3 linked regions of the Homo sapiens genome follow. The protein of the gene in region 3 interacts with the protein of the main gene of each other region in a pairwise test. Each region holds a gene or a part of one and is shown on either strand. Other genes may lie near its edges. The genes, in order: MSRB3, DDIAS and EFEMP1.

What was found.
Region 1: the proteins of EFEMP1 (region 3) and MSRB3 interact in binary tests that used the Homo sapiens proteins (3 or more experiments, as listed by UniProt).
Region 2: the proteins of EFEMP1 (region 3) and DDIAS interact in a two-hybrid assay, tested with the Homo sapiens proteins (one study listed by BioGRID).

The regions. Positions count from the first base shown.
Region 1 is NC_000012.12:65,280,748-65,289,281, reverse strand, and holds part of MSRB3 (methionine-R-sulfoxide reductase B3 isoform 2 precursor), read right to left. Parts: intron 1-8,534. UniProt on the Homo sapiens protein: Catalyzes the reduction of free and protein-bound methionine sulfoxide to methionine. Isoform 2 is essential for hearing.
Region 2 is NC_000011.10:82,904,156-82,912,689, forward strand, and holds part of DDIAS (DNA damage-induced apoptosis suppressor protein), read left to right. Parts: intron 1-8,534. UniProt on the Homo sapiens protein: May be an anti-apoptotic protein involved in DNA repair or cell survival.
Region 3 is NC_000002.12:55,871,130-55,879,663, forward strand, and holds part of EFEMP1 (EGF-containing fibulin-like extracellular matrix protein 1 precursor), read right to left. Parts: intron 6,737-8,534; coding exon 6,617-6,736; intron 6,557-6,616; exon of another isoform or gene 6,488-6,556; intron 5,614-6,487; coding exon 5,494-5,613; intron 3,937-5,493; coding exon 3,817-3,936; intron 2,840-3,816; exon of another isoform or gene 2,754-2,839; intron 1-2,753. UniProt on the Homo sapiens protein: Binds EGFR, the EGF receptor, inducing EGFR autophosphorylation and the activation of downstream signaling pathways. May play a role in cell adhesion and migration. May function as a negative regulator of chondrocyte differentiation.

The sequences.
Region 1 (8,534 bases), on a different chromosome or scaffold from region 3:
CTCAGGTGATCCGCCCACCTCAGCCTCCCAAAGTGCTGGGAATACAGGCGTGAGCCACCACGCCCGGCCAATAACATTTATATAATGTTCTAACATATGCAAAACTGAACAATATGATATAGAGACATACATCTATGATAAAACTATAAAGAAAGCAAGGTTTATCAGTTATTTGTGTTCAATGATAATCACAAAATATAGGACTATGGGTACTTCTGAGTACAGGAAATGTGTGTCTCACAGGCATCTTTCACATTTCATTTCTGAAGCTGGATGAGGGTACCCAGATTTTTTTAAAATATTCTTTATACCTTATATAGACACTATATATTCTTTTTTGTGTATAAAATATTCTCTCATAAAAAGGACAAATCTTATAAGTGAATTTTACAGGCAAGAGAAGATACTTTTTAAAATCATCAAATTAGCCAAGTTTTTTTCTTTAAAACTCACAGTGAAGTTTTTTTTAAAAATAAGACCAGATTAACCAACCTTAAGAGTTAAATATATTTAATAGGGTAATCAGAGGCAAATTCCAATGGTAATATATCCTGCTAAATGAGGACTTTTCTCATCTGAAATCTATTGTCAAGCATAAATAAGCAATTCCCAGCTGTACATTTAGAAAGACATAATTTCTAGTCCTTAATACCATTACTTCAGATGGGATATTTAATATGATGCTTCTGATACATTGTAATCTATTCTTTAAATACTAAATCTTTAAAAGGGTTATGTAACTTTGCCAGTAGCTCAAATTACTGGGCACACTAGGCTACGAAGTTCAAACATAAGATCTTAGATGCAGTGTAACACTTATAGTGAATCGCACAAGATAGTCAACTTGAACAAAATATTTTTTAAAAAGACATAATTTTGCATACTGTATTAACTATATTTTTCCATTAAAAATTACAGAAAGTTGGAGACTTTAAAATAATCCTTAAATTACAGAATCTTTTTTTTTTTTTTTTGCGGGGGGGACGGGGTCTCGCTCTCTTGCCAGGCTGGAGTGCTGTGGCATGATCTTGGCTCACTGGAACCTCCGCCTCCCGGGTTCAAGTGATTCTCCTGCCTCAGCCTCCTGAGTAGCTGGGACTACAGGCACACACCACCACGCCCAGCTAATTTTGGTATTTTTAGTAGAGATGGGGTTTCACCATGCTGGTCAGGATGGTCTCAATCTCTTGACCTCGTGATCCGCCCGACTCAGCCTCCCAAAGTGCTGAGATTACAGGCAAGAGCCACCATGCCCAGCCTACAGAATCTTAAAGCAACACCAGGTATTACCCAGTCCAATTCATTCATTTTGCAGATATGAAAACTGAGGCACAAGAAGCTTAAACGACTCAGGCAAAAACAAGACTAGAAAAACCTAGTTTTCCAATTCACTGTCAAATGTTCTTTTCATAATACTACACTGACTCCCCTGCAACACAAACACATACACAAGGATGCAAATATGTAAATGAGCCTATAATTTTTCAAGTGGCTCTGCACGCAGGTAAACATGCTCTGCCCTCAACCCTCCTCTTCCTGGCCCCCTAAGGCGATCTGACTAGAAGGCATATTCACACCCCACAAAATCAGAAACAAGGGGGACTACAGTGCACTTTTTCCTTTTTGCTCTCAATTACTGTGAGACCAGAGTTGCAAAACAACTTGTGGCTTTTCACCCATTTCCCTATCTAATCTGGACTGTTACAGGAAGATATGACCTTACCTTTCCTTAGCTACACACCACTAATCTAAGATAAAATAAGTATTCACCTATAATAGGCCCTATAGTTCTCTCTCAACCCCAACCAAACTCAGGTTCTCTGACAATCAAACACAATAAAAACAAAAGAAATGTACTGGGCGTGGAGGCTCATGCCTATAATCCCAGCACTTTGAGAGGCCAAGGTGGGAGGACTGCTTAAGTCCAGGAGTTCAAGACCTACCTGGGAAACATAGGGAGACCCTATCTCTACATAAATTTTTTTTAAAAAATTAGCCATGCATGATGACACAAGCCTGTAGTCCTAGCTACTCAGGAGGCTGAGGTGGGAGGATCACTTGAGCCCAGGAGGTCAAGGCTACAGTGTGCAGTGTGCTATGATCCTGCCATGGCACTCCAGCCTGGGCGGCAGCCAAAAAAAAAAAAAAAAGAGAAATGAAAGAACAAACATAAAATTTAGGGCTATCTAATTTATACAAAGACTGTCCTGAGTTGTTTTTCGGTTTTTGGTTTTGCTTTTTTTTTTTTTTTTTTTTTTTTTGAGAAAGGGTCTCGCTCTGTCACCCAGAATGGAGTACAGTGGTGCAATCATAGCTCACTGTAGCCTCGAACTCCTGGGCTCAAGCGATTCTCCCACCTCAGCCTCCAGAGGAGGTGGGACCACAGGTGCATGCCAGCACACCTTGCTAATTTCTTTTTTTAATTTTTAGTAGAGGCTAGGTCTTCCTATGTTGCTCAGGCTGGTCTCGACCTCCTGGCCTCAAGTGATCCTCCTTCCTTGCCTCCCAAAGTGGTGGGATTACAGGCATGAACTACTGTGCCTTGCCTGAGTGTTTTTTTTTTTTTAATAGATTCTACCATGTAGCACAGGCTTATTTTCAATAATGCCTTAAGTCTTACATATGTACTGAAAGATGTTTTTGTCTTTAAATAAAATAAGTGACCCAAGAAACCATAAGGATTTGTTATGTAATTTATAGTAACAGAAGACATGTCACGGCTATAACAGAGACCTGTAGGTGTATACTCACATGCAAATCAACTAAATTTCACTTTAAAATAGCACTGTAGTCCCAACAACAATGCTCATATACCTAAAAATATAATTTTTAAAAAGTATTTATTTATTGTATCTGACTTCTAATCCATGAGACTATTTAAAAGTCCAGTCTTAGTATAAAGTACATTGTCTGGCATAACATATATAAATTTTATTGTAAGAGGATTCTGAGAAGGTGTTTCCCTGTCATTCCAAAATTTCCGCTATGGCTCAAATTTTCAAATAGAAGTTTTCCCCCATACCCCACATTCTAAAGTAAGAGGACAATGAGATACTCAAAGTTGAGACCAGAACTTCCTGAGAGTATCCATAAAGCAAGAAATCAAGTGTCCATAGACTCTATAAGTCATAATTTCCACATGTATACTTTCCAAATATATGAGAATTTTTTTTACATTTACAAGAACTTATTTCAAAGTTTTATAGTAGCTTTTGCTGTTACGTATTTTCTCAGTCAACAGATACTAAAAACATAGTTACTACTACATGAAAGGGTCTCCATTATTTTTAAAGAGTTGGAAATTACTCAATACTATATACTGTATGTAAATGTGTCACTTTAGACAAATGTTATGAATAATATACTATTTTTATAAACCTAGAATCAGGATATACCATTCGCCTGGGAACTAGACCCTAAGAAAACACTTCCTGGTTTTTTGGGGATTTTTGTTTGTTTTCTGAGATAGGGTCTCACTCTATTGCCCAGTCTGGAGTGCAGTGGCACGATCTTGGCTCACTGCAACCTCTGCTTCCTGGGCTCAAGCAATCCTCTCACCTCAGCCTCCTGAGTAGCCAGGACTACAAGCATGCAACACAATGCCCAGCTAATTTTTGTAGTTTTTGTAGAGATGGGTCTCACTACGCCGCCCAGGCTGGACTCAAGTGATCCACCCGCCTCAGCCTCCCAAAGTGCTGGGATTACGGGTATGAGCCACCAAACCCAGCCGAAAACACCTCCTATACCAGCATTCTTTCTCTGTTTCACCTATATTCATCTCCACATTTTATAAACCTCTTTAATCGTGTAAATAAAGCCCTCTCATAAAATACATTCCCTCAACTTTCCTTTAGGAAACCAAGTATCAATAAATAGCCCTGAGGTTTCCACATCAGCACAGCTGGGTAACCCAATCACAGCAATGCCCAGTAACAATGCTGCTCCAGGCTACCACGGCCAAGTGTCAGAGATCAGGGTATAGTGACCGGAGTGGCCAACTCAAGTAAGTGTACAGGAACCTTGCAGTCAACACTTGAAGAGATAAGGCAAGCAAGGAATTCTGTAAAAATGAGGGAAGTATGTGATTTATCATTATTTTTCATTTTACATTAGGAAGTTATCAATAATTATTTTATGGATAAGAACCTGACCATGGCCACAAAAAGTAACCATAAAGGACCCCAAAAAAGTATAAAGAGTACTCCATCTGGTGGAAATCATATCTTCTTCACATTCTGTCCAGTCTTGGGGAAGAAGAGTGAGGAACGAGGAGGAGTGTGAGACACAATGTGTGTTCAAATTGGTGATGATGAAGACATTTAGGAGTCAGTCCTTTATCTGAAGAAAGATAAGAAGCCACTGAGGGAGGGTTAAGCAGGAAAGAGGGGAAATGATTTTGTAGTTTAGAAAGGTCATTCTGGATGCAGTATCCTTTGTCCAACACTTCCCATGTATTATCTCTCAAGTTAGTAAATGTGATGTCCCCTCAACAAGGAAAGCTCGTGAACAGAATGCCATATACCGACTCGGCATCTTTTAAAGTCAGATCAAATTCTCTCTTCTCTATGATGCTTTTCCTGTACCCTTCCTTTTACTCCAGCTAACAAATGCTCTCTTTTTCTCTTTATTTTTAACTCTCCTTACTCATACATGTTTTATTTCCAGCCTTGATCTCTCCCTCCAAGTTCCAGTTTCACACTTCGGATTCTACTACACATCTCCACAGGAATATCCTACCAGCACCTCAAAAGCAAGAGATCTAGAACAAAACTTATTTTTACCTCCACCCACAAACCTGCTGAGATCACATTCTCTCCATCACCCAGGCTTAACATCTCATGTCACCTTTTATTCATCCCTTTCTTTCCCAATATCCAATTGCTTATTTCTGTCCAATGTACTTTAGCAACACTTCTACTGCGGTGCCGCTATTCTCGTTAGGTCTTCATTCCTTAAGAGAAACTCTCAAAACACTTCTTTATTGGTCCTATGACTTATTTCCCAATTTAATTAATTATCTAAACTATTGGATTATATAACCTATAATTCACCTCTGATTATGACATTTCAAGGATCAAAAATGTCAGTCTCATAACTTACTAACCCAATCCAAGTTCCCTAACAGCATTAAAAGCCTTCCACTTAATTTTCCATATTTGTACTTTATTGTCCCACTATTCCACTTTATACATGCTCATTTTCTTCTACACCTGTCCTCTCTATCTGATCTGGTAAATTCTGGGTGCTCAACAAAAGCTGATTTCCTTCTGTATGAGTTGCTGTCCTCTCCTTCCCCCTGCCATCTCAGTTACAGGAAAGCATCCTATCATTTGTATATTCCCTCTTCATACAGGAAATTAGTGTTCATGGAAAAGCATGTAAAATCTAGGAAACAGACAAGTATTAAGAAAGAAAAGCAGAGTGATTGAACTCCAATTTCAAAAGAAGACAGCAGCAAGCAGGATACCATAAAAGCATCAGAGTATCTGAAAAAGTCAGAATTGTTATACCTGGAACAATGGATGCTCAGAGCCTATCAGAATTCTTCTAGCTGAGTGCAGTGGCTCATGCCTGTAATCCTAGCACTTTGGGAAGCCAAGGCTGGCAGATCACTTGAGGTCAGGAGTTTAAGACCAGCCTGGCCAACATGGTGAAACCCCATCTCTACAAAAAAATACTACAATTAGCTGGGCATGGTGGCAGGTGCCTGTAGGCCCAGCTACTCAGAAGGCTGGAGTGGGAGAATCACCTGATTCTAGGGAGTTCGAGGCTGCAGTGAGCCATGAGTGTGCCACTGCACTCCAGTCTGGGTGACAGAGTGAGATCCTATCTCAAAAAAAAAAAAAAATTCTAGGTGATTCACTGACATATGGAATTTATAGTTTAGTGAAGTTGAATATATATGGACTTAACTACAACACAAGACAATATAGTAAAACTTGTACTCCAACCATGGTCCAAAACACCTTAGAAGCACAAGGAAATTACAAATTCTGTGGTATGAAGAAAATGTCACAAACTACCATCTGACAGAGGCCTTAAAGACTTCAACCTGTTGTGATAGAGAAGAGGTCCAGGCAGTAGGAACAGCCTAAAGGAAAGGTAGAGACAGAAAATGTTAGATATGTGTGAGAAATAGGAAAACAACTGATAAATTCTCAGTCCCTAAGCTATTACTGTTTCAAATATCTCTACCACTTATAGTTTTAATGAACTTATCCTAAAGAGCCACTGGAGGTCAGCATTTTATTCAGTGAATTCCTGAAAATATGCAGATGATTATTTGCAGAGTGAATTAGTTGTTATCAGAGAAAATGTTCACAATTCATTTTAAGGACTATAACCTCATAACATAAAATGGAAAAATGCAAAATCAAACCATCTACATGGCTGTACTACGTACATCAGATACTCTAGAATTAGAAGAGACTTTAGGGAAAATCTAGGTCAACCATGTGACCTAAACTGTGTCTATCAGGTTCTACCTCCCAGGAATTTAGGATCAAGGCTCAATAATATAGTCCCTCCTTATGAAGGGACACATAAATACTCAGGAGCTGCTGAGCAGCCACATCTAACCATGAAGAGAAAAAAAAAAAAAAAAACACCAGCAAAGAAAAAACAGTGAAGCAAACTAGAGACAGGGAATGTTCTAGATTTTTCCAGTCCCTTATCTCAGGCCCTAAATGAGGTCTGCCTGCATTTGACTTCCAATGGTTTTCCAACAAATTCCTTTCTTCCTTTTTGCTAAAACTAGTTCATTTCTGTTACTGCAATAGAAGCTTAAATGAGGCAATAACCAAAATCTTTCATAAAGTCAATTGTTCGATGCGTTTGTTTGATCTTTTCTATACTTTCCTTTTTTGTACTTCCCTTAAAGCCATAAACATGACTTCAGCATACTATACAGACAAATATATGAACATGGATGAGGGACTGTGCTGAGCAATTTTTTTTTTTTTTTGAGACAGAGTTTTGCTCTTGTCGCCCAGGCTGGAGTGCAGTGGCATGATCTTGGCTCACTGCAACATCCGCTTCCCTGGTTCAAGTTATTCTCCTGCCTCAGCCTCCTGAGTAGTTGGGATTACAGGTGCCCACCACCATGCCCGGCTAATTTTTGTATTTTTCATAGAGACAGGGTTTCACCGTGTTGGCCAGGCTGGTCTCAAACTCCTGACCTCAGGTGATCTGCCTGCCTCGGCCTCCTAAAGTGCTGGGATTACAGGCGTGAGCCACCACACCCAGCCTGTGCTGAGCATTTTAAAAGGAAAACCCATCATGGGCAGGAAAGAGAAAATACAGAATATTCAAAGTAAATCCTTGAGATACAGCAAGAAGAAATGCTAACTAACAACTGGCAAATTAAATAGCTGATTACCCTTCCATCCAAATCCAGTTTAATTCTGCTAAATCAGATAGGTAGATCCAATTCAATCTTCTCTGAGGTAAGATCAAAAGGTGATAACCCATTATAGGCTATTTCATCTGGAATGCTCACAGATAACTAGCCTTCCCAACCACAGAAATGTTTGGATGCTCTCTGGCGGTATCCCTAACCCAGACCTAAATAACAAAACTGAATATCAAACTGTCTTAAGGCCTGGGCTTAACTATCCCCAAAAACCAGTTAGGCATTTACCCTATGACATAATCAGCACTTTCTGCTATTAGATGAGGAAGAAAAAGTGATAGAAGCTTAACACGGAATCTGTCCAGGTATGTATGTATCTTTGTGCATGTTCCAGGTATTAACACAATCCTGAGACAGATCCGGACTCTCCAACACTGGACCACACCCATCACATCTGGCTAAGGTAGGCCAGTTTGACATGTATAGCAAGTCACAGGCTGACAATCAGAAGTTTGAACCACATGTAGTAGGTGGCTCTGAAGAGTTACATAAACAAAAACAACATTATAGGATCTTGGAGTTAGAAGAGACATGGAAACTGTCCAACTTAATAATTTTACCGAGAAGCTAAACATGGGAATCAAATTCATCAACCAAATCCATAACTATGATAAATTAATTATACAGGTGCAGATAAATTAGAGGGATTGTGACCAGATTATGACAGAACCAAAAATGCAGTGGTGTGATCACGGCTTACCACAGCCTCGATCTCCCTGGCCCAAGCAATCCTCCCACTTTGGCTTCCCAAGTAGCTGAGACCACAGGAGTGAGCCACTATGCCCAGCTAATTTTTTTTTAATTTTTGTAGAGACAGGGTATCCCTATGTTGACCAGGCCGGTCTCGAACTCCTGGGTTCAAGCAATCCTCCCACACTGGCCTCCCAAAGTGTTGCATTACAGGCATGAGCCACCACACGTGGCCTTAAAATCTATTTTTAATTATTAAATGGCATATGTATTAGAAAAACTGATGAACCTTACTGTTGGGATAGTCTTTGGATATTCTTTTGAGTTGAGCAAAATAGCAAGGATTTCTGACTTAATGGATTAACATCTTAGTTAAAATATTAGAACAAGCACTTTTAAAAACAAAAAGCAGTGTGTTGATTCAAAATCTAAA
Region 2 (8,534 bases), on a different chromosome or scaffold from region 3:
TGAACTTTAAGATAGGATTCACATCTTATACTTTTATGTTCTCTTCAGCCCCATCCCCAGATGCCAGTTTACACTAAATACTTAATTGAACTTTTTCTCTAGGATCTAACATAGAATAAGAATTAGTTTAGATTTTCTAATCTAACCCAGTTTTTCTAGATCTTCTAGTCTAGCCGGAAGAAGAAAAAAAGATGTGTTGGTATGTGCATGTATGGGCACGGTTTTTCATAAATGATTAAGTTGCCTTCTGAGAACTTGATTATGAGGTAGTTAAGCTGAAAGATCACCAAATAATGGATTAGAGTAAAGAATTGCAAAATCATCCAAATGAGACTAAGATGCTGTCAGGCCTTGGGGATTTAACTATAACCATGTTTATCACAAGTGTTACACACCATGAGATAGTCTCAATGACTAGGCTACTGGTTTTCAAGTGTGGGCAATTTGGCCATTACCTGGGAACTTAAAATGCAGATTCTCAGGCCCTTATCCCAGACTTACTGAATCAAACTCTGGAGTTGGAGCCCAGCAATCTGTTTTATCAAGCCTTCTGGGTGATTTTGATATATGATAAAGTTTGAGAAATACTTGTCTAGTATGAAAATGGGATGCAGAGGTTGTAATCAATGAGTTTATATATCTGGTACCACTGACAAAACCATCTCTAGAATGAAAAATGCATCAGGCATTAGCTTGATTCCATTAAATAGTTGATTCACCAAACAGCTCTTCTTCAAGCAACTTTCTGTTTATAATTTTAGTATAATATGAGGTTATACCAAATATACAAATATGGGCTTCTGATATGTCCCTTCCCTGTGATGGTAATTTTTCGTGGTAAATTAGTAGAACATCTTTGGATTACAGTTCAGCTCCCCATATGGCTTGTCTAAAAGGAGAGAAAGCAAGTATTCCAGAATATCCCATGGTAAATTAGATATGTACTATAGTGTGTCCACATGGACCCCACATATTTTAATAAGCATAAGTCTATTGGAGCCTTCATTCCTGGACATTGACCTAGGTAATCCCTGGTATGTGCCCTTTGAAAAATCAAAGGCCAACTGAGGCCTTAATTAGTTCTGCCCCAACACTTACACTTTTGTCCCTCTTTCTACCCTCATTTCTACTTTTATGTGTGAGAGATTTAAAGAAAGCAAGATTTTCTTTGTATATTATTGCTAATGTCCCTATCCAGCATTTTTATAGTATTTATTGATTTTTTTCTAATTATAAAAGCAATACACTTAGATTGTATTTATTGATTTTTTCTAATTATAAAAGCAATACACTTAGAAAATATCTTAAATATATAAAGAAAATAAAAATCGCCCTTAACACTACCACCCTGAGAAAATACTTTTTAAAAATAAGATTATATACTTTCCTAACTATCCTCTTCTCTTTCCCCATTCCTCCCATCAAAAACTAAATTAGTCCCCCTGTTATATTTTCTCATGGCACTATGCATTTCCAAAATAGAATTTGCCAGAATTGCAGTTAAATTTTTTGTGTGATTATTTTAATGTCTGTCTCTTACACTAGACTGTAAGTCTAGTGACTAGGTAGGGACCTTGTCTGTTTGTCCATCAATCACACTATCCCCACCTAGCATTTAGCAGCTGCACAACTAATAACTGATGAATAAATAAATATGTTCGCATATTAAATTGGGATATGGTTTGCTGTGATGGAGCTGAAAGAAATGTAATACTATATCATCATCCTTCCCAATAAATGTGAAAAGAAAGATAAACTGCAAAAGATACCACATATGAAATTGTTCCCAAGTGTATCATCATATCTTCCTAATTTTAGTATTTACTTATTCCTGATGTTTCATTCAATTATTCATCAGACATGCATCCACTATACTGCAAGTCAAGCAGTAGAGAGAGACAGAGAAATAAAACAAAGTATAAAAACACCCCCAGAGCCTAGGTAAATAAATAAATAAATACAAAAATAAACTAGGTGGCAAGTATGAAGGAAATATTATGAAAACACCAAAGGAAATTAATTAACAGTAACTGTCTGAAACGATCTTATTCTATTATTGTCCAACAGACAATAAATGGGAAGCCTTTTTGCCATTTTCTGGGGTTCACCAGGTGAAATACAAATAGTAAAAATACTAATGATCCCTTTCATTACAGTTCTCAAATTTGCTGTTTTTATAGATTTTTAGACTTACTTATTTGATCCACTAGAGGGCAGTAAACCCTTAAATAAAGACAATGTAACCAACCTTCCTTTAAAAGTATAGTAATAAGTGCTGGCACAATTAATTTAGAAATGAACCCAAAATTTCCTGCTTATTTAAGTTTTTCATTTATTAGTGAGTTGTCTGCCCAATTAGCAATTTTTTTTAGGACAGACAGTATCTTATTTTCACTTAGCCCAGTGTACGAGTCATGTTACAAGTTTATTACATTTCCTAAAGTTTGAATAACAATTGTGTAAAGAACATGATTTGATGAATGCCCATATTGTTGTGGTACAGTATAAAATTCTGTTTTAGAGCCCTAAAGAAAATAGTCTCTGCTCACAATATGAACAGAAGTAAAAAAATTAGAAGTGAGGATAAGATGTAAGTAATGATTAAAATAAGTATGAAATAAGGTACTATATATGAAACTAGGCTGTGTACTTCGTATACAAATAGAAGATAATTTTATGATTTGGTAAAATTGTGTTTTATATTTAACGCTATGTGACAAAATTGTGGCTTGGGAAGAGGAAATGCAAATCATGAAGATTAATATCTGAAGTTCAGATTGACAATTTCTGAGCTTGGCACTGAAGATATAAACAGATAGTCCTTCTACGATCTTACTTTGAGTCCAGGAAAAACAAGCCATATTGAACAGATAAATTTAATATAATGTGGCATGTGATGAATTAAAGAGTAATTTAACTTCTGGGAAAACGTCCTAGAAAAGAAGACTTCTAAGAAGGATCTTAAAGAATAATAAGCATTACCAAGAGAATGAAAGCATTTTAGAGAGAAGAATGGAAAAAAGCAAAGGCATAGAAATGTGAAACATATTGTGGGGGTGGGGAAGCAAGGAACACAACTCAGATTGTTTCTCTTGGCATAAATTACTAGCACATAAAGAGCAAAAAGAAAGTTAAGAGAATAGGCATTAGGGAGAATAAAACCAAATAGACAATACACTACAATAGACAAAACAAATGGTAGGACTACAGAGGTACAATAGTATATGGTGTAGAAAAAAAGAAAAGCCATTCCCTTTGTTAATAAAGAAAGACTTTTTAGGGGAACTTCAAATGAAATAGGAAGAAAATTCTGGTTATCGTATGGCGTCTGCCTACTCTGTTGTAAAAATTTTCTTGAATTGCAAAATTCTGCTTATAGTTCTTCATTCATGCAATAAATTTTGTTTTGAGACTAGTCTTTGTTGCCCAGGCTGGAGTGCAGTGGCGCAATACCGCGCACTGCAGCCTCAATCTCCCAGACTCAAGTGACCTTCCCACCTCAGCCTCCTGAGTAGCTGGAACTACAAGCATGCACCACCATGCCCAGCTAATATTTTTTATTATTTGTAGAGATGAGTTCTTGCTGTGTTGCCCATGCTGGTCTCAAACTGGTGGGCTCAAGCAATCCTCCCACCTTGGCCTCCCAAAGTGCTGGGATTATAGGCCTGATCCACCACACCTGGCCCCATTCAATAAATATTTATTGTGAACTTACTGTGTACTGAGCACTGTTCTAAGCACTGGGGTTACAGTAGAGAACAGGGTGGACTAGGTCCCCGTCTTTATGAAACTTAGGCTAGTGATGGGTAGATGAACAAAAATAAGTAAGCAAAGACATACATAGGATGACTATCCAGCAGGGTTAGTACCATGAAGGATAAAACAGGTGATGCCATAGAAACTAAGAGGAAGGAGGATTCTACTTGAGCTAAAGTGGGGCTCTCTGAAGGGATAACATTAGAGTTACAGATTGAAGGACAATAAAGAACCGACTATTCCAAGACCTAAGGGAAGAATATCGTAGCCAAAGAGAATAGTAAGCACAAAAGCCTGAGAAGGGAAATCGTTTGGTGTGCTTGAGGAGCAGAAAGAAGGCCAGCATGGCTTGAAATACAGTGATTGAGGAGGAGAGTGGTACAAAGTGAGGTCAGGGATTGGCAAGATCTACATGACCCAGGGCTGCACAGACCATTGTGAGATATTGAGGCTTCATTCTAAATAGCAGGATTTTAAGCAGGTAAGAGACAGCATGTTCAGGAGTGAGCTTTATGCTCTTTTAGCTCCCCTAACTCACAGGTAGATGTACCTCCATACTAAACCCTACACTAAATTGGATTTTAGAATGTGGAGGACAATGCCTTTGTTGACATAACATCATTTGTTATGTTAACTAAAAGTTATAGGAGGCCTTTGTTTTGGACTAAGCTCCTGCACTAGGCCCCAGTGGACCAGACTAAAAATCAAAATAGAGTCATTTATACTTAAAGTTCCACCTCACCAAATCAAAACTACATTGTTATCTGACCTTCCTAGAACTCAGAAGAGAGAAATAACCAAATTTCCCACATGTGCCAGTTTCAATTGTCATAACAACGAACTTCGCTCTGCCTTTGATGCTTACAACAAAAAGTAGCCTTATGTTAACCAGTTATTCCTGTATTTTTCTGTTCCTCTGTTCCCACTTTAGGAGGAAAGTAACTTTGAAATGACCAAGCTGCTTTTTGTTCTTTGTTTCTACTTTCTTTAGCCCTTCTCTTTCTGTAAAACTGAACTTCTCTGCTCAGCCCCTTGGGTCACTTACTCTATTTTATGGAATAAAGTATTTCCCGATTCTAGAATTGTTACAGGAAAGTAGTCCCAATTCAGACCCCCAGAGAGGCTTCTTTGATCTCGCACAAGAAAGAATTCAGGGCAAGTCCATAAAGTGAGAGCAAGTTTATTAGGGAAGTAAAGGAATAAAAGACATAGAACAGCCCCGAGGGCTGCTGGCTGCCCATTTTTATGGTTATTTCTTGATGATGTGCTAAACAAGGGGTGGATTATTTGTGCCTCCCCCTTTTAGACCATATAGGGTAACTTCCTGACGTTGCCATGGCATTTGTAAACTGTCATGGCGCTGGTGGCAGTGTAGCAGTGAGGACAACCAGAGGTCACTCTCATCACCATCTTAGTTTTGGTGGGTTTTAGCAGGCTTCTTTACTGCAACCTGTTTTATCAGCGAGGCCTTTATAACCTGTATTTTGTGCCGACCTCATATCTTATCCTATGACTTAGAATGCCTTAACCGTCTGGGAATTCAGCCCAGTATGTCTCAGCTTCATTTTACCCAGCCTCTAGACAAGATGGAGTTGCTTTTTTATTCAAACACATCTGACAGAATCATAAATAAAGCCAATTAAGATCTTTCACAAAATTGTTGTAATTTTGTCTTTTGACAGTTGCAATGGCAAGGAATTTGAGGTTTTAGCACTTACAATGGCAATTTTCTTTGACCCTTCTTTCTGCCTTTCCTTTGTATCCTGTATTACCTACCCTACCATGTCCTTTGAGATTGCCATGTAGCCTAAGGTGACAACCAAATCTAGGAATACATAATCGGCTTTGGCAGAACCTTACTAATGTATATATAAGAGTCCCAACAAGGATAGCAAAAAATTAGGATTAGCGTTCTCTTTTCTGTGCTCCCTTCAGTAATACAGATTAGTGATTTATTTAAATTATTTATCTTTCATCTGTAAATTTCCATCTTATTACCTTGAGTGGCAAGATTTTATTTTTATAGAAATGTTATTTTGATTGACTATCAGAATTAGTATCACTTTAACATCTCCCTTCCATAGTCACCACATTTCTATGTTTGTCATCATCTTTAGAGTACTATACCGAAAAGATTTTATTATTTTAAAACCAGTGACCTCCACTTTGTCAGTTTGCTGATGCCAGTGTCAAAAACAGCATCACCCATTTCAGAATTGAAAGTTTTTGCCATGTGTTTAAAAATGAAAGTTTCTTAATACAGCTTTATCTCAAACAGTTACAAAGACCTTTGTTGTAAGGCATGTATTTTATGTTATATGTTTTATGTTATGCTAATCCATTTAAAAAATTAGTAAACAAACCAACCTTTTTTTTTTTTTTTTTTTGAGACAGAGTTTCACTCTGTGGCCCAGGCTGGAGTGCAGTGGCATGATCTCGGCTCACTGCAACCTCCGCCTCCCAGGTTCAAGCAATTCTGCCTCAGTATCCTGAGTAGCTGGGATTACAGGTGCACACCAGGCTAATTTTGTATATTTTTGATAGAGATGGGGTTTCACCATTTTGGTGAGACTGATCTCAAACTCTTGACCTCAGATGATGTGCCTACCTCGGCCTCCCAAAGTGCTGGGATTATAGGCGTGAGCTACCACACCCTGCCACAGATCAAGCTTTTAATTTTTTCTCTCTCTCTCTCTTTTTTTTTTTTTTTTTTTTTTTTTTTGAGAACAAGTCTCACTCTTTCACCCAGGCTGGAGTGCAGTGCCATGAATACAGCTCACTTCAGTCTTTACCTCCTGGGCTCAGGTGATCCTCCCACCTCAGCCTCCCAAGTAGCTGGGACCACAAGCTCATACTACCACGCCTGACTAATTTTTTTTGTTTTTTGGAGAGATGAGGTCTCACCGTGTTGCCCAGGCTGAATTTTTAAAAAGAAAGTATAAAGAGGAGAACATTGCTACAGGCATACCTTGGAGATATTGTGGGTTGTGTTTCTGACCACTGCAATAAAGCAAATATTGCAGTAAAGCAAGTCACACAAATTTTTTGGTTTCCCAGTGCATATATTAATAAAATGTTTACACTATACTGTAGTCTAAGTATGCAATAGCATTATGTCTAAAAAATACATCTTAATTAAAAAACACTTTATTATTAAAAAATGTTAATGATCATCTGAGCCTTCAATGAGTCATAATTTTTTGTGGTGGAGGGTCTTGCCTCAGTGTTGATGGTTGCTGACTGCTTGGGGTGGTGGTTGCTGAAGGTTGGGGTTGCAGTGGCAATTTCTTAAAATAAGACAACATTGAAGTTTGCTGCATTGATTATTCCTTTCACAAAAGATTTTTCTGTACCATGTAATGCTGTTTGATAGCGTTTTACTCACAGTAGAACTTCTTTCAGAATTGGAGTCAATCTTCTCAAACCCTGCCACTGCTTATCAACTAAGCTTATGGAATATTCTAAATTCTTTGTTGTAATTTCAACAATGTTCACAGCATCCTCACCAGGAGTAGATTCCGTATCAAGAAACTACTCTCTTTGTTTATCCATAAAAAGCAACTCGTCATAAGTTCATGCCTTATCATGAGATTGCAGCAATTGAGTCACATCTTCAGGCTCCACTTTTTAATTCTAGATCTCTTGCTATTCCACCACATCTGCAGTCACTTCCTCCACTGAAGGCTTGAACCCCTCAAAGTCATCCATGAGGACTGGAATCAGCTTCTTCCAAACTCCAATTAGTGTGGATATTTTGACTTCCTCCCATAAATCATGAATGTTCTTATTAGCTTCTAGCATGGTGAAACCTTTTCAGAAGATTTTCAACTTACTTTGCCCAGATCCATCAGAATAAGCATTATCTATGGCAGCTATGGCCTTAGGAAATGTGTTTCTGAAATAATAAGACTTGAAAGTCAAAGTGACTCATTGATCCATGAGTAGAGAATGGATGTGTTAACAGGTATGAAAACAATATCAATCTCCTTGTGCATCTCATCAGAGCTCTTGGGTGACCAGGTGCGTTGTCAATGAGCATTAATATGTTGAAAGGAATCTTTTTTTCTGAGCAGTAGGTCTCAACAGTGGGCTTAAAATATTCAGTAAATCATGCCATAAACAGATGTGCTGTCATCCAGGCTTTCTTCTTCCATTTCTAGAGCACAAGCAGAGTAGATTCAGCATAATCCTTAAGGGCCACAGGATTTTTGGAATGGCAAATGAGCACTGGTGTCAGTATCAAGACACCAGCTGCATTCACCCCTAACAAGAGAGTTAGCCTGTTCTTTGAAGCCTTGAAGCCAGGCACTGACTTCTCTAGCTATGAAAGTCCTAGATGTCATTTTCCTCCCATATAAGTCTGTTGTGTCTACATTTAAAATCTGTTGTTTAGTGTAGCCACCATCATCAACTAGTTAAGATCTACTTATCTTAACTAGATCTTTTGGATAACTTTCTGCAGCTTCTACATCAGCGCTTGCTGCTTTACCTTGCAGCAAGTTATGTTTTATGTTTTGGAGGTGGCTTCTTTTCCTAAACTTCAAGAACCAGCCTCTGCTAGCTTCAAGCATTTTTTTCTGCAGCTTCCTCAACTCTCTCAGCCTTCATAGAATTGAAGAGCATTAGGGTATTACTCTGGATTAGGCTTCGATTTAAGGGAATGTTGTGGCTCGTTTGATCTTCTATCCAGACCACTAAAATTTTCTCCATATCAACAAAAAGGCTGTTTTACATTCTTACTTATGTGTTCACTGGAGTAGCACTTTTAATTTCCTTCA
Region 3 (8,534 bases):
AGATGTAGGGTCAAAGAGTTTACTAACTAAACTAATGAACTGATCTAATTAAATCATATAACTGGCAGATTCTGTTTGCAAGGAAGGAGGTGTGAGAGCATCTGGACTGTGTTCAACCTGCTTTTAGACACAAGACTGGGTGTTCATTGTATTGAATTCAGGACAGACAGAGCTGAGACATTCTAGGCAGATTAATATGTGTCATTTCATGATATTTTATCAAGCACCTATTGTTCATCTGTTGAATTCAAACCCCAATGTTAACCACTGACTCTGCCTATATAAAAGTTAAACACCAGTTCTTGTCATCAGGGACATTATAATTGAGGGAATGTGTATATGATTACTTAGAAAGTAAAATGGAATTAAGTAAGAGATAGATAAGTATACTGGGGCATGTGGAGCAGAGTTGGGTAATTTTGCCAGGGGGATTAGGGAAGGCTGAAGGAAGGAAGAGGCATCTCAACGTGGCCTTGAAGGGTGGTGGTTAGATGGAGTTTTCATGGCTGGGGCAGGGAAGGCTTTCCAAGCTGAGAAATCAGGAAGCATAAACTATGGAGGGCAGCTTATCATCTCTTTCAGGAACTTGGGAGAAAGGTAAAGGCTAGAAATCTGGTTTCAGTAAGCTGAAGCATGCTGGGAGTGGATTATACTGTCCAGAGGAAGCACAGCACAGGAAGTGAAACTATGAAGTGTTCCACCTCATAGAGCATAGCAATTTTAGGACTGTAAGGAAAAAGAGGAAGTTAAGGAAGAGGCTGTCAGTGCAGGGAGACAACCCAGGAAAAGGCAATGCCAAAGAAGTCAGAGGGAGAGAGAATCCTGGGAAGAAGGGTTGTGTTTACCTCAGGCTGGACAAAGATTGACTTTAAATTTGGGAATCAGAAGCCTCCAGATGACATCTGAGAGAACAGTTTTACTAGAGAGCCATTACATTTATAACAACAACAACAACAACAATAAAAATAAAATTAATATCTACATCTCTATGTCTGTCTCCCTTTACATTTGAATAGTGATTTATATTTTATTCAATGTAAACTTTTTCTGAATCATTCCTTCTCCACAATGAGATATTTTTATTCATGAATTTACTCATTCCATAAGTAATTTACTGAATCCTTGCTGTAAGCCAAGCATGGGCTAGGTGCTGGGATATGATCTCTTTTGAATTCTCATACCCGGTGTTCTTTTTTAAGGGCCTTTATTGCTTTCTGCTTTGCATTATTGCAATCTGCATGTCTAGCTTAACCCTTCTATTAGCTTGTAAACTCCTTGAGGGCAAGGGTTATTGTACCCATCTTTTAATCCTTTCATCACCTAGCATTAATGCAATAGAGCATCTGGCTTTTAAGAAATATTAAATTGAACTAAGTTGCTCTTCACACAAACTGTGTGGAGGTAGGTGAGAAAGATATTTCCACTTGATATGGATGAAAAACAAATAAGGGTTTAGTGGCTCATTCAAGTTCATATACTCTAAATAATTCATGCCTTGACTTTGGAGGAAAAAAAAGTATTTTAGCTTCCAAACTGGCTAAAGTTATCTGGAACTCAAGAACAGACTGGGAAAGCTAGGTAGTCTCCAAGAGACAGTTACAAAAAGTGTCTTCTTGGGCTGGCTATGGCTGAAGAAAGAAAACTTAGATTCTTCAAATGAAATCACAATTGACTTATCCTTTCAGTATTTTCCACTTTTTTGAAGAATAAAGATGCTGTTTAGGTACAGGGAAAACTAATACTTATTTGTTATATGGAGTCCAACAGAAGCAAAAGACAACCTTATAATTTCATTTATTACTTCCATTAATGTAGAGCCTAGCATAATCATCACCTTAATCATTCTGGAAGATTTTTCAGAAATTAATACTCTCAAAATATTTGATGAGTGTGTGTCTATGTGTATGTGTATTCTTTTGTCTCTCTGTCTCTCTCTCCACACACACACACACACACACACACACACACACACAGTTTTCATTTGTATAGGCCTGTGAAATGAGAACAGTTATTTCATCCACAAAATAAGTCTTTTAGAGAAAGTTAAGAATCCAAAACTTTCAATTTCATTTTATTCCTGTGGACAAGGCTCAGAAGGAACGATTTCCGTAGGAGAAAGCAATTGCTTTATACTTTAGAAGAATGCTAAGTCTTTTTCACAAAAAATGTTTTGGCTTAACCAAACATTCTGAAGCTGCATATCTTCAATATATAACATTTAGGAATCCCCCACTTACAATTTTGGTGCATTTTCCACCTTTAATTACAATAGATATAAATGTTTCCACATAGATAGGCTAGGCAGGTCGGATCCCACCGTGCATTAATCTGCTTCTGTCTTTTGCTGAGCATCAAATCAATTTTTGATCAGAAACACATAGATATTTGTTTGAAGGACTCCAGAGAAATTTGTTAAGACATTCCACTAGCTAACATTTTCTTGCATGTAATATGCATGTTGAAAGTCTCAATTAGGGTTCAGTAAGTAAAATCATTGGAATGCAATGTTTTCCCATAATTAACATTTATAAAGTCTCTAGTAACCTGGAAAGGGTTATAAAGATGTTCATTGTGCAATGAACTACATTCTGATTATGCTCATACTCAGTGGTTGGAGTCTAGTCGAAAAATTGTGTGCCTATTATAAAATCCCAGGTAATGGATTTCCTCTAAGTTAATATTTTCCTGTAAAATCATGATATAGACTGAGAATCCCCAGTGTCTCCTTTCCTTGATCTTTCTTTTCTTAACAGGATCTTTATTGTCCTTGTGTGCCTTCACTCCAACTCTGATTAAAAAGGACTCTCTACAGAAGACGTACTACTGGTCACTTACATTGGTAAGTAAATTTCATAAAAACACCTTGACCTGTACAAGCTTTATAGTTTACAAATTATTTTTATGTATGTTATTCCACTAAATTCCCACAACTCCCTTTTCCAAATGAGGAAGCTGAGGCTCAGAGTAGTTTGATAATTTGTTCAAGATTGTGCAGACTGAATACAGTGGAGCTGGGATTCAAACAGGTTTTCTGTCAAGTTTGGTCATTTTTTCATTCTTTTGTTGCTTTGTGTAAATTTAAGTGTTTGTACTAGCTTTTCCAGGATTTTCTACGTTTTTGGTTTTATCTGACAGTCCTTTCCCTGTTAAGAAAATTTTCAACTACATGCAACATTGGAGGTAGGGTCCTTTTTTTTTTTAGATCTTCCTGAGAAACTCTGAAATCATACCATTGTGGGGAGCTGCCTCTTCCACTTACGTATAGGTGTGAAGATCATCTGAATGTTTATTTTGAAACTGGACCCAAGGTCATTAGCTATTTTGGGGCTAGTAGTTTTCTCTAAAATATTCAACTATATTTTACAACATATTAGGCTGACTTTTCTCAGCACCTACATTCTTACGCAATTTATAATCCTTGTGTTTTAGAGGGCTAAGACTGGATGGAGGTATGTTTAACTCACATATTGAGCTTATGCTCTAAACTCAAACTCACAGGTGAAACATTTTAATAACTGAATCTTTTCCAGTGGATGATTTGAAGATGTATCTCAAAGAGATGATGTAGGTTACATAGAATACATATCAATATTTTATTAAAATTATTTATCTTTTAAGGACGAAAAATGTCGGCATTAGCATAGAATCACCTCTTTATGAGATGTATATATTTTATGATGAACAGGGGAAAAAAGAGCTTAAATTGTATATTGAAAGTGGGAAAAATGAAAGTCTATAGGAGAATCCTATAACTTCCTCTTGTCTCTTCCTGGCTAAAACTAAATACCTAACATATGAAAAAAAAAATAAACTTACCTTGACATGTTCTACTTCTCACCACTTGGTATCCCTGGGGGCACATACATGAGAATTTCCCAGGTTCATTGACACATTGATATTGACACAGGTAGCTTGAGGTTCTGCATTCATCAATGTCTGTTGAATTAGACAAGAGAAAGGACACAGAGTTGAAAAGTTTGTGCACCACTACTTTGGATATATATATATATATAAATTATATATATATATAAATTATAAGATTTAAAATATCTATATTAAAATAATTATATATAATTAAAATTATTTATATTTTAAGGAGGAAAAATTATATCTACCTATATATATATAAAGAGATCTGGCTTCTTGTCCTATTCCTGCTACTGTGTGACTTGGGCACATTTCTTAAGTTGCCTGGGTTTCATATATACACACACACACACACACACACACACACACATATATATTTTTTTTGTTCTGCTCAACAGTCCAGAGGAAGTAATACACTTTTGAGGTGAGCTAAAGAGAGTAAAAATATTGCAAATTCTGAAATAGAAATACAAAACTTTATAAGCAGCTAAAAGGCAAATTCTAACAATATCAGCTTATTTCCCTCTATGACTTCATAGCACAAAAAGTTTTTCTTATCATGACTTTTACTGAATCATTGCTGACAATTTGGCTAATCCTGGACCTAACTACACTACTGAATGAATTGGCTTGTGGTTGACGGCCTTCATTTTGGACTCTGCAGACCCATCCAGGATGTAGAGTTCATGTTTGTCTTCTCAGAAATTGGGTGACTTTGAAGCCAAGTTCATTTGAGCTTTGAATGCCAAGTCCCCTAACCTGTGCAAGCTTCCAGAATGACAGCTTGGCAGGATCTGACTTTCAGGGGAAGAATGCTTTGCATTTCTGAATAGTGATGTCCCTACAGTTTACTCAGAAGGGCAGAGGCAGCTGTCCTGAGGTAGCCTCTTTCAGTTTTGAGTGTAATGGCATGATGTGAGGCCTCTCTCGGTGGGGTTTGAGCTTTGTGTAAAGCTGAGTGAACCGTGAGGAGGTCAGGGACATCAAGTGTCTGTGGCATCCCCCTCAGGATGTCTAATGCCTTTTGAATTATATAACGAAATGTGCACATGCAATGGACCCTGAAGGTCATGAATCTAGTTAAATGGCCCTCCTCTTGTTCATGTGGAAAGTGAAACCCAGGCAACTCAAGAAATGTGCCCAAGTCACACAGTAGCAGGAATAGAACCAGAAACCAGATCTCCTGATTTTTATTTTAATGTTTTGACATGCACTTGGCTATTCTGAAACTTAAATGTGCACACCAGTCACCTGCAGTTTTTGTTGAATGTAGATTCAGACTCAGGAGGTCTGGGTTGCAGCCTGAGATTCTGCATTTCTCATAAGCTCCCAGGAGGTGCTGACATACCTGGTCACTGGATAACACACTGAGACGCAACATGCTAGAGCACCCTTTCTAATTATTAGAGCCAGCCTGCACCTAATATTTCAGTTATTTTTATTTCTTTTCCTTTTTCTTGGTAACACACTAAAAAGGCAATGTAACAACTGAACTACATTAACTGGATTTTAGAACAGAATTCCCATGGGTAAGCGTTTGTTTTCATAAATGGGTACATAATCAGATAAAACAACAGCAGTCACAGGAATTGGACTTTATTCCATACTATCTGGGAAGAGTTTTACCTTCACAGTTGAGCCTGTCACTGCTTAGCTCATATCCTTGATTGCACTGACAGATGAATGAACCAAGAATGTTGTAGCACTGCTGAGCACATTGATTGCTGGCATCACATTCATTTATATCTGAAAAAAAGTTTTATATATATATATATGTATATGTATATATATACACACACATATATATATAGACTTTAAACATATCCTTACTCTTTTGTACCTACGTCATCTGCTGACAAGTGAGTAATTCCCTAGCTGAATTATTTGCCCTGCAGAAGCTCACTGGAGAACATCCATTTAGGTTTCATATTTGTTGGAACAACTACAAACGTCTGTCATATACTTCTTTTGGAAATACCGAAATATTTTTTCTAGGAATGACAGTTAGTTTGATGTTTGATGAATCTTTCCAAAGGAATTTAATGCTTCTAATAAATATACACTCCGGTATCGATTTTCTTTTGTTGTTCAGATACAAAATGCCAATTCTATAAATAATTGATATAAGACACTTATACTGATATGGTCTCTCAGCATGCTGTACTGAAGATTTATCTGTGCTATTTATTACTTTTTAAATGGGTTCTGTTAAATTCCATTACAATTATAACATAAGCCTTTGAGACCCATACGGAGTTTTGCAATGCTCTAAAGCACTGAAAATATTGTGAAAAGGCATTTTTCCTACACTAGATTTTTTCCATGTCATGCCAATCTTTTAATTGTGTGCCGTGACATTGCATTCTGAAAGGGGAGAAGAGGCATGTAAAAATCAGATGCACTTTCAGTGGAAAGTTTATATACTTGAACTTGTAGTAACCCCTTTGGCACTTTCAGCATTATATCACACACTGCTGATTGACTGGTGTATGTATATCAATTGATTTGTAGTTTTAAATTTGTTGATCTATCCACAGAGGAGAACTAAAACCAAAGTTAAAAAGTTTTCTGTTCACATCTTGATGTGTTTTAAGACACAGATTGGTTATTATCTTTTAAGCTTTATGATTGCTGAAGGGAAGTCGATGGAAACTATTTACTCAAGAACATAGAAAACTGGAAATACTGCAACATGGCATGGGGTTTCCTTTTGTGAAGACAGAAATCAGCAAGTTCTCAAAAGGCTTACCTACGCAGGTATAGTTGTTTGCTGCCAATTGAAACCCAGGACTGCACTGGCAATAAAATGAGCCTGGTGTATTCACGCATCTTTGGTGGCAATATGGAGGGATGGTACATTCATCTATGTCTAGGTTATCAGGCACACACACAAAGAGAACCAAATTATTGAATTAGCATTCTCTGAAAAGCATTATCTAGAAAACCTATGTAGAGAAAATCTCTTTTTAAAAGTAATAATTTCCTATTTTGTTAAAATTAGGGTATATGTATTTTAAATATACTTTGTATTCTGAGTTAAGAAGTTAAGAACAAAGACTCAATGTTCATGCCATTCAGTGGTAAATAAACTTGGTGGGTGGATTGAGATTTAAAGAAAACAAAATAATTGAGACTATTGCATATATATATAAGATGTCAGTTTGGGGAGCTAAAAGCTTATATATAATTACAGAAGTAAAAAAGAACTACTGAAGTGCATGGTGCAGCACAAAACAAAGAAGAAAGAGTTGTGGGCTGTGCTCAACTGGTGACCTTGGCTAAGTCACTTACGCCTTCAGTATCTTGGTTTTTCTTCTATAAGATGTGGATAGCAAGGCTTGCCATGTGTATCTTAGGACGTTTTTGTGTATCAAATAAAAGAACACTGTGGAAGAATTGGATGCTAAATAAGTTACCTCTTGAGAGTGCTCTTTTGACACTTTGATGAAGTGTTCCAGCCTGTGTCCTTCTCATATAAATATTTTCAACTATAAAATGCTCAACTAAGAACTTGCTAAGTAGGACTAACATCTTAGAAGCATAATAAAATTTCATTAATTCATGATTCTACACTTTGTGACAACTTCAACATGGCATGTGTAATTTAAAACAACCATTATGCATATACAATGTAATGCTATATAGTGACACTGCCTTGTGGTAAAACAAAACAAAACAAAACAAACCTTTATGCTGGGCTCTTTTGGTACTTTAATAACTAAAATTAAGTAGTGTGCTCAAGTGGCCTCAGGATAACCTGAGTCTGAATCTTTGTTCTGGCAATTACTAGCTTGGTCTTAACTTCTCGAGCTTGCATTTCCTCTTCTGTGAGTAGAATTATTGGGAGGGTTACAAGACATAATGTAGGCAAAGTTACTGGCACAAAGCAAGTAAACATAAATGGGAGCTAATAAGCTGCAAGATATATTTGATTTAACTTGAATACTGAAATAAATAGTAAGAAGATATTCACATGGCTTTTCCCCTTACTTTGGTTCAGGTGTCCATTCAAATGTCACCTCCTCAGGGTGGCCACCTTTCCCACCAATATCAAATAGGTTCTTCTGCCCTATCTATTCCCTTACCTTGCTTTAGACTTCTTTGTAGTCCTTAACAGTACTCGACATTGTGTTATGTGTTTATTTGCTTCTTGTGTGTTCCCTCACTATAGTGCATGACATTCTCCCCTTGAGGTGGAGGTAGAGGGTTTTTTGTCTGTTCATTGTTAGATCTGGAATAGGGCCTGGCATAGTAGTAGGTGTTCAATAAACATTATTCGAATAAATCGAAACTTCACACTAATTAAGAGCAATTTTAGCATAGTGCTTCCTAGTCCTCAGTACTATCATCAGGTGCTAGTATTGATAGCTAATTTGTATGAATGGTATTATACTTTCTAATAGCTCCACGAGGGCTATGAATTTGTAAAATTTGTTTACTATTATCCCAGTTCCTAGAACAATGCTTGTTACACAGTAAGCCCTCAATAACTATTTGGTGAATATGTGACGCATGTCTTCTTAACTAATAAACATTCATTGAACCATTCTTATTTGCTGGTACTGTGTTTGGCACCCCAAGTTTATAATGATAATCAGTATACATGTGTTCTGCCTTGTCTGGTATGAAAGACAGGCATGAAACAAATTATTCCATGGAATGAGAAG